Linked DNA regions of Homo sapiens. The protein of the gene in region 1 interacts with the protein of each later gene in a pairwise test. Each region holds a gene or a part of one and is shown on either strand. Other genes may lie near its edges. The genes, in order: CSNK1G2 and CERT1.

What was found.
Region 2: the proteins of CSNK1G2 (region 1) and CERT1 interact in binary tests that used the Homo sapiens proteins (3 or more experiments, as listed by UniProt).

What each region holds. Positions count from the first base shown.
Region 1 is NC_000019.10:1,972,076-1,979,196, reverse strand, and holds part of CSNK1G2 (casein kinase I), read right to left. Parts: intron 4,089-7,121; exon of another isoform or gene 3,126-4,088; coding exon of another isoform or gene 3,083-3,125; intron 893-3,082; coding exon 852-892; intron 756-851; coding exon 686-755; coding exon of another isoform or gene 596-685; coding exon 447-595; intron 339-446; coding exon 104-338; intron 35-103; coding exon 1-34. UniProt on the Homo sapiens protein: Serine/threonine-protein kinase. Casein kinases are operationally defined by their preferential utilization of acidic proteins such as caseins as substrates. It can phosphorylate a large number of proteins. Participates in Wnt signaling.
Region 2 is NC_000005.10:75,377,182-75,382,657, reverse strand, and holds the end of CERT1 (ceramide transfer protein), read left to right. Parts: intron 1-580; coding exon 581-709; intron 710-1,456; coding exon 1,457-1,586; intron 1,587-3,184; coding exon 3,185-3,312; 3' UTR 3,313-4,883; downstream 4,884-5,476. UniProt on the Homo sapiens protein: Shelters ceramides and diacylglycerol lipids inside its START domain and mediates the intracellular trafficking of ceramides and diacylglycerol lipids in a non-vesicular manner.

The DNA.
Region 1 (7,121 bases):
CCCAGCGCCTCCAGGTCGTCGCGGCGGCTCTGCTCTGCGGGGACAGGGGCGCAGCCTCAGCGGGGTCCGGGCGCCCGCCCCCCGCCGCGCGCGCGCAGCTCACCCTTGCCCAGGTGCGTGTTGATGCTCATGTAGCGCGCCGTGCCCGTCAGGCTCTTGTGCTCGCGGTACGGGATGTGCTTCTTGGTCTCGGGGTCGATGTACTCCTTGGCCAGCCCGAAGTCGATGATGTGGATGGCATGCTGCCGCTTGGTCCCCGGGCGGCCCACCAGGAAGTTCTCGGGCTTCACGTCCCGGTAGATTAGGCTCTTGGTGTGCACATACTCCATGCGCGTGATCTGCAGGGGGGCACGGCGGTGTCGGCCGGGCCCCTCCCCGTCCCACGCGCTCCCCTCCAGGGCCACCCTCTTCCCTCCGAGCCCCGCCCCGCCCCGCCCGCCGCGCACCAGCTGGATGGCGATCATCAGCACCGTCTTGAGCGTGAAGGTCCGGTCGCACAGGTCGAACAGGTCCTCCAGGCTGGGCCCCAGCAGCTCCAGCACCATGGCGTTGTACTTCCCGCACGGACCGAAGTAGTAGACCTGAGGGACGCCCTCTGCGGCGGAGGACAGACGCACGGGCGTGCGGCGGCAGCCCCCTCCCTGCCCCTGCGCAGCCCCCGCCCCACCCGCGGGCCGCCCGGTACCTGTGGCGCTGAGCTGCTTGTAGAACCGGTACTCCAGGTGCAGCTGCGGGGCCCGGGACTTGATCGGCTCCTGGGGGCACAAGAGCGAGTCACCAGGGGACCGGGTCGCTGCCCTGAAATCCCTGGGGGGCACGTCAGCGGGGGTGGGGTGGAGGGGCCGACTCACCAATTTGATAGCCACGTATTCATTTGTATAGAGATTCTTTCCTGCGGGGACAGAGACCATCAGCACCGCCAGCGCAGGGCCCACCTAGCCCCGACCTCCCCAGCCCACCCCCGAGGCAGGAGGCAGGAGGGGGTCCCTGAAGGACCACCCTCCAAATGACACCACTGCCCAGCAGCAGGGCCTGGGCCCAGCCTGCCAGAGCACTGCACCATGGCCTGCCAAGTCATCCCGACACCTGCACCCTGCCCGTGTGGTCACCGCCTCAGTGTCTGCCACTCCTCCTCCCCCGCCCCCCCACCTCCCTAGCCCAGGACAGAAGCGGCACTGGGGAGGTCTCTCACGGCCTGCAGGCAGCCCCAAGGGCTCCACACTCCTCCACCCCTTTCTCAAAGACAAATCTCCCACATGCCCGAGGCCCTCGGCCCCCAGGTGAGCCCCAGCACAGATGGACAGGGACCTGTGGCCCACATGGGTTAGAAGAGAGGAGCCCAGGTCCTGTTCCCTGGGGCCACCAGCCACATAGGACTTCCAGGGCTGAGTCTCATGAAAGCGCAGAAGGTACGAGGCCCAGAACCTTTTTTTTTTTTTTTTTTTTGAGACGGTGTCGCTCTGTTGCCCAGTCTGGAGTGTAGTGGCGAGATCGCAGTTCACTGCAGCCTTTGTCTCCCAGGCTCAAGCCATCCTCCCATCTCAGCCTCCCAAGTAGCTGGGACTACAGGTGCGCACCACCACACCCAACTAATTTTTGTATTTTTAGTAGAGACGGGGTTTCTCCAAGTTGCCCGGGCTGATCTTGAACTCCTGAGCTCAAGCGATCTGCCTGCCTCAGCCTCCCACAGGGCTGGGATAACAGGCGGGAGCCCCTGTACAGGCCAGGGTGCAGCTTTTTACATGTTACACCCCCTGAGGAAGGAGGCGGCCAGCCCTTAACACAGAGGCGCTCTGCAGGGGCAGCTGTGGAAGCCGGCCTGGGAGGGGGCACGGCCCCACCCACTGTGGTGACTCAGCACCCGAGGGGTGAGCCTAGAGGTGAACAGGCCGGTCCCTGCAGGCACACGGCCCTGGAGGGCTCCCCACGGCAGCTGGGCCAGACGACAGGCATGAACGTGTCTGGCACCCATGTGTCTCCAGCCCAGGATGGCACTGGGGCCATAGCTACCATCTGCTGGGCGACCTGTCCCGCGGCATGACAGGGCACCATGTGGGGCAGCCCCGTCTCTCAGGCACCATCCAGCTGGGTCACCGTGTTGGGTCTGCAGTCAGCTGCCTTTGCCCGAGTAGCATACGCTGCAGAATGAGGCCTCTGTGGCCGGGCACGGTGGCTTATGCCTGTAATCCCAGCACTTTGGGAGGCTGACGCAGGCGGATCACCTGAGGTCGGGAGTTCGAGACCAGCCTGACAAACATGGAGAAACCCCATCTCTACTAAAAATACAAAATTAGCCTGGCATGGTGATGCATGCCTGTAATCCCAGCTACCAGGGAGGCTGAGGCAGGAGAATTGCCTGAACCCGGGAGGTGAAGGTTGTGGTGAGCTGAGATGGTGCCATTGCACTCCAGCCTGGGCAACAAGAGAGAAACTCTGTCTCAAAAAAAAAAAAAAAGAAAGCAAGAAAGAGGCCTCCACTTTGTTCCGCCCTGCTGCAGCTGGACTGGCAGGGTGGCCGTGGAGACAATGGGTTTGGAAACCCTGCTAAGGTGGATTCAAAGTCCCAAAGCCCGGTGGCTGAGCTGTACACAGTCATGACCTCATAGTCTGAGGCTGGGGTCCCACCTGGGCCCTGAGAGCCTCTTCCCCCGGCTAGTGCCCCGTCCTGGGCGTGCCTTGCAGCACAGGAATCGCTGGGGCTCCTTCTGGCACTGCCCTGTCCGCATCACTACCTGGGCTCTATTTCAGCACAGTTTCCAATCAGCTTGTCAAGTTCCCTAAACAGCCTCAACAACGTGGCATCTTGAGGGTGCAGGATCGTGAGGACGAGGGAAGACCAGGTGCCTCCCTGCAGCCCTGAGCCCGGGACCAGGGCTGGTCTCTCCAGTCCTGAGCCAGGGACCAGGGCAACCCCTCCAGTCCTGAGCCGGGGACCAGGGCTGGTCCCCGCGTTTTCAGAACAAATGGGCTCCCCTCCTACGTTCTCCCCAGTGTAACACGTTATTAGGAAATTCTCCTCGTAAAACAACAGGAGCCGTGCCCCAAACACCCAACACTCATTGCCGAGGCCCCAGAACTAAACCTGCCACACGGTCCATCCTCACAGCTACCATCCACCGGTCCATTTTATTTTTAGAGGGATTTCAAAGTTTTTTTCTTTTTGGAGCAGAGTCTCGTTCTGTTGCCCAGGCTGGAGTGCACTGGCGCGATCACGGCTCACTGGAACCTCTGCCTCCTGGGTTCAAGCGATTCTCCTGCCTCAGCCTCCTGAGTAGCTGGAATTACAGGCAGGCACCATCAACCTGGCTAATTTTTGTATTTTTACTAGAGATGGGCTTTCTCCATGTTGTCCAGGCTGGTCTCGAACTCCTGACGTCAGGTGATCCGCCCACATCAGCCTCCCAAAGTGTTGGGATTACAGGCGTGAGCCACTGTGCCTGGTCAGATTTCGAAGTTTTAGAGCTCAGGACACTGCCCCAGGTTTGAAGTTTTAGAGCTCAGGACACTGCCCCCTGAATCAGCTGCAGGTTCAGTCCAGCATTTGCGTGTCCTTCCTGCGCTGCCCTTCGGAGGTGGGATTCACAGTGGATTCATCCCCCCTTCCCCGCCCAAAAGGCTGCCCCTGCGGTGGGCTCCTCGCCGTGTCGTGCTGCGTGTGCCCGCCTGGTGCTGTGCCGCGGCTCACAGGGAGGATGGGGTTTGGTTTGCCCATCTGCCCTTGAGGCACGCCCTCCCGTCTCCAGTTCTGACTCTCCAGAGCGGAGTTCCGGCGAACACGGCTGTGTAGCTCTTCCTGCGGGCAGCCGTCCCCTTCTCCGGCAAAGTGTCAGTCACGTGCTGACCACCAAGCACTGAGCTGCGCTCCCCCAGGCTGAGGAGGACAAGCCCTCGCCTGTGTGCTACACCGTCCCTCTGCTGTCTGTCGATGTATCATCCAGCTGTGGCTCCCTGACGGGCAGGCGGATGCTCGCCAACGTCCTCCCCAGCCTGGCTGGCCTCATGCTCTTGGCAGCGTCTTGATGGGCGGGCCTTTGAAGCTCTGATGCATCTGATGGTGATGGGGTCCTTCCCGGCTCTTCTACTCTGCACTGTGGAAGAAACCTTCGCCTGAACCCCACCGCTGTGTGCGGCTGGCGTGTCAGAGACCTGGGTGTGTGCTGGGTGGGTGTGGCAGCATCTGAGGCCTGTGGATCTGCAGACTCCTGGAGGAGGTCGGGCGCTCTGGGCTCTGAAAGCCAAAGGGGCCTCCTCCGGCAGTACTCGCGATGCATGCAGAGGGCAGGAGAGCCCACGGGGCCTGGCAGAGAACAGCTCCAGAGAGGCTCAGGAGGTTCCGGGGGACACACAGGAGGGAGGACGCCACAGCTCCAATGGCCGGAGTGCGGGGTCCTCCCTGGATTCTCTACTTCAGCTGAGAACCCAAAAGGTCCACACCTTGGCACAGGGCTCCCTGGCCTTGGAGTCGCTCATGTTTACCCTCAGCCTTGCCCCAGCAACGCTGAAACCAACCTGACAGAAACAAGGTGAGCCACGGGGACAAACTCAGCGCTCAAGCCGGGAGACGGCACCCTCCACACCTCACGGCACACACCACGGCCACGCCCAGTGAGGCTGTCCCACAGGTGAGTGAGGGAGGTGTGACCGTGACAAGGGAGGAAGAAGCAGCACAGACGTCACTCCACACAGTGCTGTGTCTTTGATGCACCCCCCAAGGGTCATGTGTTGGGAACCTGGTCCCCAATCCAGCACTGCTGGGGCTGGGGCTGGGGCCTAGAGAGAGGATCTGAGTCGCTGCCCTCGTGGATGAGTGAATGCCATCAGCAGGGGAGTGGGTTCCTGACTAAAGGGCGAATCCAGCCCCCTCCGGTCTGTGCCGTCCTGCCTTCCACCATGCCTTCTTGCCATGACATGGCAAGAAGGTCTTTGCCAGACGCCACCCTCAATCTGGGGCTCACCAGCCTCCAGAACGGTGAGCCCATCAATTTCTGTTCATTATAAATGATCTGGCCAGGTGCAGTGGCTCATGCCTGTAACCCTAGCACTTTGGGAGGCTGAGGCAGGTAGATCACGAGGTCAGGAGTTTGAGACCAGCCTAGCCAACCAACACACAGTGAAACCCTGTCTCTACTGAAAATACAAAAATTAGCTGGGTGTGGTGACGGGCGCCTGTAATCCCAGCTACTCGGGAGGCTGAGGCAGGAGAATTGCTTGAACCCGGGAGGCGGAGGTTGTGGTGAGCCAAGATAGTACCACTGCACTCCAGCCTGGGCAACAGAGCAAGACTCCATCTCAAAAAATAATAAATAATAAATAAAAATAAATGACCCAGTCTGTGGCATTCTGTTACAGCAGCACAAAATGGACTAAGAAACAGCACAAACATGTTCAAAGATTTAAAGGAAAAGATGGCCAAAGTGAATGTGCACATGGGAAATCTCAGCTGAGAGCGAATGGACAATCAGACGAAACCGAAAAATGCCACTAAGCAATCAAAGATTCACCACATGGACTTCTGGGGTTGGAGGCTGCAGAAAAAGAGTAAACTTTCAAGCAGCAGCAGCAGCAGCCGCACAGCCTGACACCAGGAGAGCACAGAGGCAGACGGAAAACAGCCAGGGCTGAGGGACCTGGGGACAGGGCCAAGCACTCCTGTCACACGCAGAACCAGAACCCAGGAATGAGAGCAAGGCTGGGTATGGTGGCCCACGCCTGTAATCCCAGCACTTTCAGAGGCCAAGGCGGGCAGATCACCTGAGGTCAGGAGTTTGCCAACATGGCAAAACCCTGTCTCTACTAAAAATACAAAAATTTAGCTGGGCGTGGTGGCAGGCACCTGTAATCTCATCTACTTGGGAGGCTGAGGCAGAATTGCTTGAACCCAGGAGGCGGAGGTTGCAGTGAGCCGAGATCGCGCCACTGCACTCCAGCCTGGGCAAGAGAGTGAGACTCTGTCTCAAAAAACCAAAGCAAGGCCAGGCGCGGTGGCTCACGCCTGTAATCCCAGCACTTTGGGAGGCCGAGGCGGGCAGATCACGAGGTCAGGAAATGGAGACCATCCTGGCTAACACGGCGAAACCCCGTCTCTACTAAAAATACAAAAAATTAGCTGGGTGTGGTGGCGGGCGGCTGTAGTCCCAGCTACTTGGGAGACTGAGGCAGGAGAATGGCACGAACCTGGGAGGCAGAGCTTGCAGTGAGCTGAGGTTACGCCACTGCACTCCAGCCTGGGTGACAGAGCGAGACTCTGTCTCAAAAAAAAAAAAAAACAAAGCAGGCGAGGCGCGGTAACTCACATGTGTAATCCCAGCACTTTGGGAGGCCGAGGCAGGTGGATCACCTGAGGTCAGGAGTTCAAGACCAGCCTGGCCAACAAGGTGAAACCCCATCTCTACTAAAAATATAAAAAATTAGCCAGGCATGGTGGCTCACGCCTGTAATCCCAGCTACTCGGGAGGCTGAGGCAAGAGAATTGCTTGAACCCGAGAGGCAGAGGTTGTGGTGAGCCGAGATGGTGCCACTGCACTCCAGGCTGGGCAACAAGAGTGAAACTCCATCTCAAAAACAAAACAAAACAAAGCAAAGCAAAGCTGAGATGGAAAAACGTTTCATGAAATAATGGCTCACATTTTTCCAAAGTTAATTTGAAAAAGTACCAACACAGAGATCCAAGAAGTCAGTGGATCCCAAGCAGGATAAAAACAGAAAGCCTCATCTAAGGAGAGCATAGTCAATATTTTAAATCAAAGATAAAAACCTTAAAAACAGAAAAAACGACACATTCTAGAACATTCTAGACAACGGAACAACATTCAACAACCGGAGTCCACAACAGGCTCAACATCAAAGCCACCAACAGTCCTGAGTGCTGGGGACGTGGAGTGCTCGAGGAGCCCAGTGCTATTCAGTTCTATTTGGGCAGTTAGTTCTATTCAGAAGGGCCCAAATCCAGAAACAGCCAAGCGTCCCTGCGCTGGGAGCAGATGAAGAAGGGCTGGTGTGTCCTCCGATGGACGGCCTCCCGGCACCCCTGAGAAACCACGATGTGCGGCTGCCCGCGAAGCACACAGCGCCCAAAATGCCAGGCTGAAGAGAGCGCAAACCGCAACTCAGTAAAAGCTGGC
Region 2 (5,476 bases), on another chromosome or scaffold:
ATTTAAAGTAGGTAGTCCCATTTATTGAAGACCTAGGCTCCATGTCATTCCCATAGTATATGTTTCCCCTTGCATACCTTAATATTGAAATATTTAATCTAAGTGACTTAGAATTCTTTCTAATGTGATTTGATTCAAATAAGTCTTTTTTCATTAAATCTTTGAATCTAAGTAGAACATAATCATGGAGTATGAGGAGAGAGGAATGGAAAGTTGTTGCTTACTGGGTACAGAGTTTCTGTTTGGGATGATGATAAATTTCAGAGATAGCAATATGGTTACATAACACTGTGAATGTAATTAATGTCCCTGAATTGTACCCTAAAAGTTAGTTAAAATGACAAATTATACGTGTATATATTTTACTGCAATTAAAAAAATAGAACATTATTCCTTTTATTATATTGTTCTGCAAAGCTATTAACTCTGTTCATAATTAATCATTTGGTAGATATCCTCAGATGCTTTCCATTTAAAATTTGAGAGATTTTACCTTCAATTAAGACATTTATTGGCATTACGTTTCTCTTGTTAGTTCCATGTTAGATCTGTTTTTCAAAAGATTTTTACTTCTCCACAGAGGGTGTGGCCTGCTTCTCAGCGAGACGTATTATATCTTTCTGTCATTCGAAAGATACCAGCCTTGACTGAAAATGACCCTGAAACTTGGATAGTTTGTAATTTTTCTGTGGATCATGACAGTGCTCCTGTAAGTACATGTATATAAATGTGTATAATTAAACAATATAAAGCTAAATACACAATGCGGGACAAAAATGATAAACACAGCCCATACACTATACTTGATTTGATAATGGTTCTTAGATTTTATGTTGGATTGACTGCTAGGAACAGTATAGCCCATGTGTTGTCTGAGGGCAACAGTCATGCCTATGAACATTCCACCAGGGCCGTTTACCTTTCCTTCTAATGTTTCGTGAAACAGCCAAAAGGGCAGTACATACACTGGGCAGTAGGCTACTTCCCACAGTTATCTCTTAAGCCGTTATCAACTGCCAGCCAAACCTCTGTGGTTTACCACAATTTAGCTCCATTTACTACTTAAGAGGAAGGGATCCTGGGCAACATGGTTAGACCCCATCTCTATTAAAAAAAATTTTTTTTTTTTTTTTAATTAGCCAGGCCTGGTGATGTGCACCTGTGGTCCCAGCTACTCTGGAGGTTGAGGCGGGAGGATTGCTTTGAGCCCAGGAGTTTGAAGCTGCAGTGAACTATGATGGCACCACTGCACTCCAGAGTGGGCAACAGAGCAAGACCTTGTCCCCAGAAAAAGTGGGTGGGGAGGAATCCTGGTGTCATATCAGCTTGGTGCTTATAAGATTTCACTGGAGATACTTTTAAGAGTTACGATTTTGGTTAACCTAATATAATATTAGACCAGCAGAGTTTACAAAATACTGGGTATCTACTGATGCTTTGTTTTTTGTTTTGGCAGCTAAACAACCGATGTGTCCGTGCCAAAATAAATGTTGCTATGATTTGTCAAACCTTGGTAAGCCCACCAGAGGGAAACCAGGAAATTAGCAGGGACAACATTCTATGCAAGATTACATATGTAGCTAATGGTATGTATTTTATTGTTTTTGCTCTTTGATAATGTGGCTGTTCTTGATCATGACCTATATGACAACAATTTGGACAAATGCCTTTTTAGTTCTTATCCATTAGATTACTAATTTTTAATTTGGAGAAAGGTATATCAGAATTACTAGAGAATCTTTGAAAGTACAGATGTCTGAATTTCACCCTGGAACTACTACTATATGAGTATTTCTGAAGCTAGAGCTGGATAGGAAAATTTTAAAACTTTATCCCTAGGTCACTGTATATACCCTTCTTTTTTTTTTTTTTTTTTTTTTGAGATGGAGTCTCGTTCTGTTGCCCAGGCTGGAGTGCAGTGGTGCAGTCTCAGCTCACTGCAGCCTCCGCCTCCTGGGTTCAAGCGATTCTCTGCCTCTGTAGCTGGGATTACAGGTGCCCACAACCACGCCTGGCTAGTTTTTTGTATTTTTAGTAGAGACGGGGTTTCACCATCTTGGCCAGGCTGGTCTTGAACTCCTGACCTCGTGATCCACCCACCTCGGCCTCCCAAAGTGCTGGGATTACAGGCGTGAGCCACTGCGCTCGACCTAGCCTTCATATTAAGCACCATTTTCTTAGATATTTGCCTCATAGAACAGATTTATTATTAGGAATATAAGCAACAGTGGGGAAGGAAATTAAGAGTTCTTTTACTCATTGTCAGCCTTTTTAGCTTTCTGAATCAATGTTCCCCTAGTCCTTATTAGTTGCTAGTTACATATTTATTTCTCTTTGACATTCATTGTCAGGCTTTTTGTTTTCTGAGTCAGCGTTTCCCTAGTCCTTATTAGTTGCTAGTTACATATATTTGTTTCACTTTGGATAGGTCTTTTCATTGCTTGCTTTGGGTCCTTACTTCACCTGCTTTGCACCTGGAGTAATCATTGCAACCTCTCTCATCAAAAGTCATACCTTCTTTATACAGGGCCATAACTGCTAGTATGTTCAAAGAAACAGTTGTACCTGAGTAAGTTACTATTTCATTATAGTACAGATTTGTGAATAATCTGCCCTAAATAACCTTAAGTGGTGCTATACTAATTTTTGCAGGTAATTTCGGGAACTAAGAACATTGTAGAAAGGTTATAGATGCTTTCTTATTTGCTGTCTGATTATGTCTGATGGATAGTGTTAAGGAATGAAGGGTTGGGACTTAAAAGATCATAATTGGTCCAGCTGGGTACAGTGACTCAGCCTGTAATCCCAGCACCTTGGGAGGCTGAGGCGGGCGGATCATGAGGTCAAGAGTTCGAGACCATCCTAGCCAACATGGTGAAAACCCATCTCTACTAAAAATACAAAATTAGCTGGGCATGGTGGCGTGCACCTGTAATCCCAGCTACTCCGGAGGCTGAGGCAGGAGAATCACTTGAACCCCGGAGGCGGAAGTTGCAGTGAGCCAAGATCGCGCCACTGCACTGCACCCTGGCAACAGAGCAAGACTCCGTCTCAAAAAGAAAAAAAAAAGATGCTAATTGGTCCAATGTGAGGAATATTTTAAAAACAAGGGAACAAATTAAGTGCTTCACATATGTTTGGAGAATTGTATCTTAATACATTTTAATTTTCCTTTATCTTGCAGTGAACCCTGGAGGATGGGCACCAGCCTCAGTGTTAAGGGCAGTGGCAAAGCGAGAGTATCCTAAATTTCTAAAACGTTTTACTTCTTACGTCCAAGAAAAAACTGCAGGAAAGCCTATTTTGTTCTAGTATTAACAGGTACTAGAAGATATGTTTTATCTTTTTTTAACTTTATTTGACTAATATGACTGTCAATACTAAAATTTAGTTGTTGAAAGTATTTACTATGTTTTTTGATGTTCCCCTATAGAGTATTGTTTCGTTGGTTTTTGTTGTTGTCGTTGTTGTTGTTTTAAACAGGGTCTTGCTCTGTTTCCTAAGCTGAAGTGCAATGACACCATCACGGCTCACTGCAACCTCAACCTCTGGCCTCAAACAATCCTCTCATCTCAGCCTTCCCAGTAGCTGGGAGTCCCCACAGGCATGTGCCACCATGCTCAGCTAATTTTTTATTTTTTGTAGAGATAGGGGTCTTGCTATGTTACCCAAGCTGGTCTTGAACTCCTGGCCTCAGACAATCCTCCTGCCTCAGCCTCCCAAAGTGCTGGGATTACAGACATGAGCCACCGTGCCTGGCCTTGAAAATTGTAGTTTATAGCCTTTAAAACTTAATTCTTTTATTGTTTCCTTTTTCTTCTAATGCTTATGTAAAGAAATTTTGATATTATAGAACTGTAGAATTGTAGAAGTGCAAACTTCCTGTATTCTTTCCTTTCCCAGAAACTGTTATTTTTGTTGTATATTCCTCCAGATTTTTCTGTGTATGTACTGACATATTTTTGAATGTTAAAATGTTTATACTTACTATTATACAAAATTCTTGTTTTATAACCTTTTTTTCACTTAACAATGTATCTTGACTATCTTTCTTTATAAGACATGAGATGTGTAAAACATCTCATTCTTTTAACATCTGTTACATGCATGTTGCAGAATTTATTAACTAGTCCCATGTTAATGTCTGAGTTGGTTCCATATTTTTACTGTCAACCAGTACAGCACTGAACACCTTTATGCAAAGAGGTAGAATCTTTAACTTTATTTTGGTGTTGTTGAGACAAAGTTTCTCTCTTGCTGCCCAGGCTGGAGTGCAGTGGTGCAATCTTGGCTCACTGCAACCTCTGCCTCCCAGGTTCAAGCGATTCTCCTGCCTCAGCCTCCCGAGTAGCTGGGATTACAGGCGTCCATCACCACGCCCAGCCTATTTTTGTATTTTTAGTAGAGGCAGGGTTTCACCATGTTGGCCAGGCTGGTCTCGAACTCCTTACCTCAGGTGACCTGCTCTCCTGGGCCTCCCAAAATGCTGGGTTTACAGGCGTGAGCCACTGCACTCAGCCCAAAATCTTTAACTTTTTAAAGTAAGTGATACGTTAACATGATTAAAAGCCAAAAGTGGCCAGGTGCAGTGGGTCACACCTGTAATCCCAACACTTTTTGGGAGACTGAGGTGGGAGAATGGCTTGAGGCCAGGAGTTCAAGTCTAGCCTGGATAACATAGCAAGATTCCATCTTGACAAAAAACAATTAGGCGTGGTGGTATACATGTATAGTCCTAGGTACTTGGGAGGCTGAAGCAGGAAGATCGCTTTGTCTGGGAGTTTGAGGCTGCAGTGAGCTGTGATTACACGACTGCACTCCAGCCTGGACAGGTAATGTCTGTCAAAAAATAAATAAATAAAGTCAAAAGTATGAAAAAGTTATACAGTAAAATTTACCCTGTCTTGCATTCACCATATAGTATTAACATATGCTATTACTAGTTTCTTCTAGAAAGTTTTTAATGCTTGAATGAACAAATACAAGTGTATTTTCTACACAGATACACTTTTTTTGTTGTTAAAGAAGCAGCAGCATACTATAAACACTGTTCAACATCTTATATTTGCATTTATTTTATCTTGAAGGTCTCACATATTTGTAAGGAGCTTCCTCATTTTGATGGTTATACAGTATCCCATTGTATAGATGTACATAATTTATTTAATCAGTTCTGCATTGGCGAATATTACAGTTTCCAATTTCTGCCAGAGCAGTGTCATAATTGTATCCATATGTCATTTTGTACTTGCAAGTTTATATGTGGGAAAATTAATAGATGTGGTACTACTGGCCCTGCTAGGGGTTTGTGCATAATTTAGATACTACTTTTCATAGAGGTTATAGTAATTGACCATCTCAACAGCAATAATGAATTGGAGTCCCTGTGTCCCACAGTTTTTCATACAACGTGTAAAACAAAACTTTATAACTTTCCCAACTCATTAGGTGAAAAATACTCTCTCAGTGTAGTTTT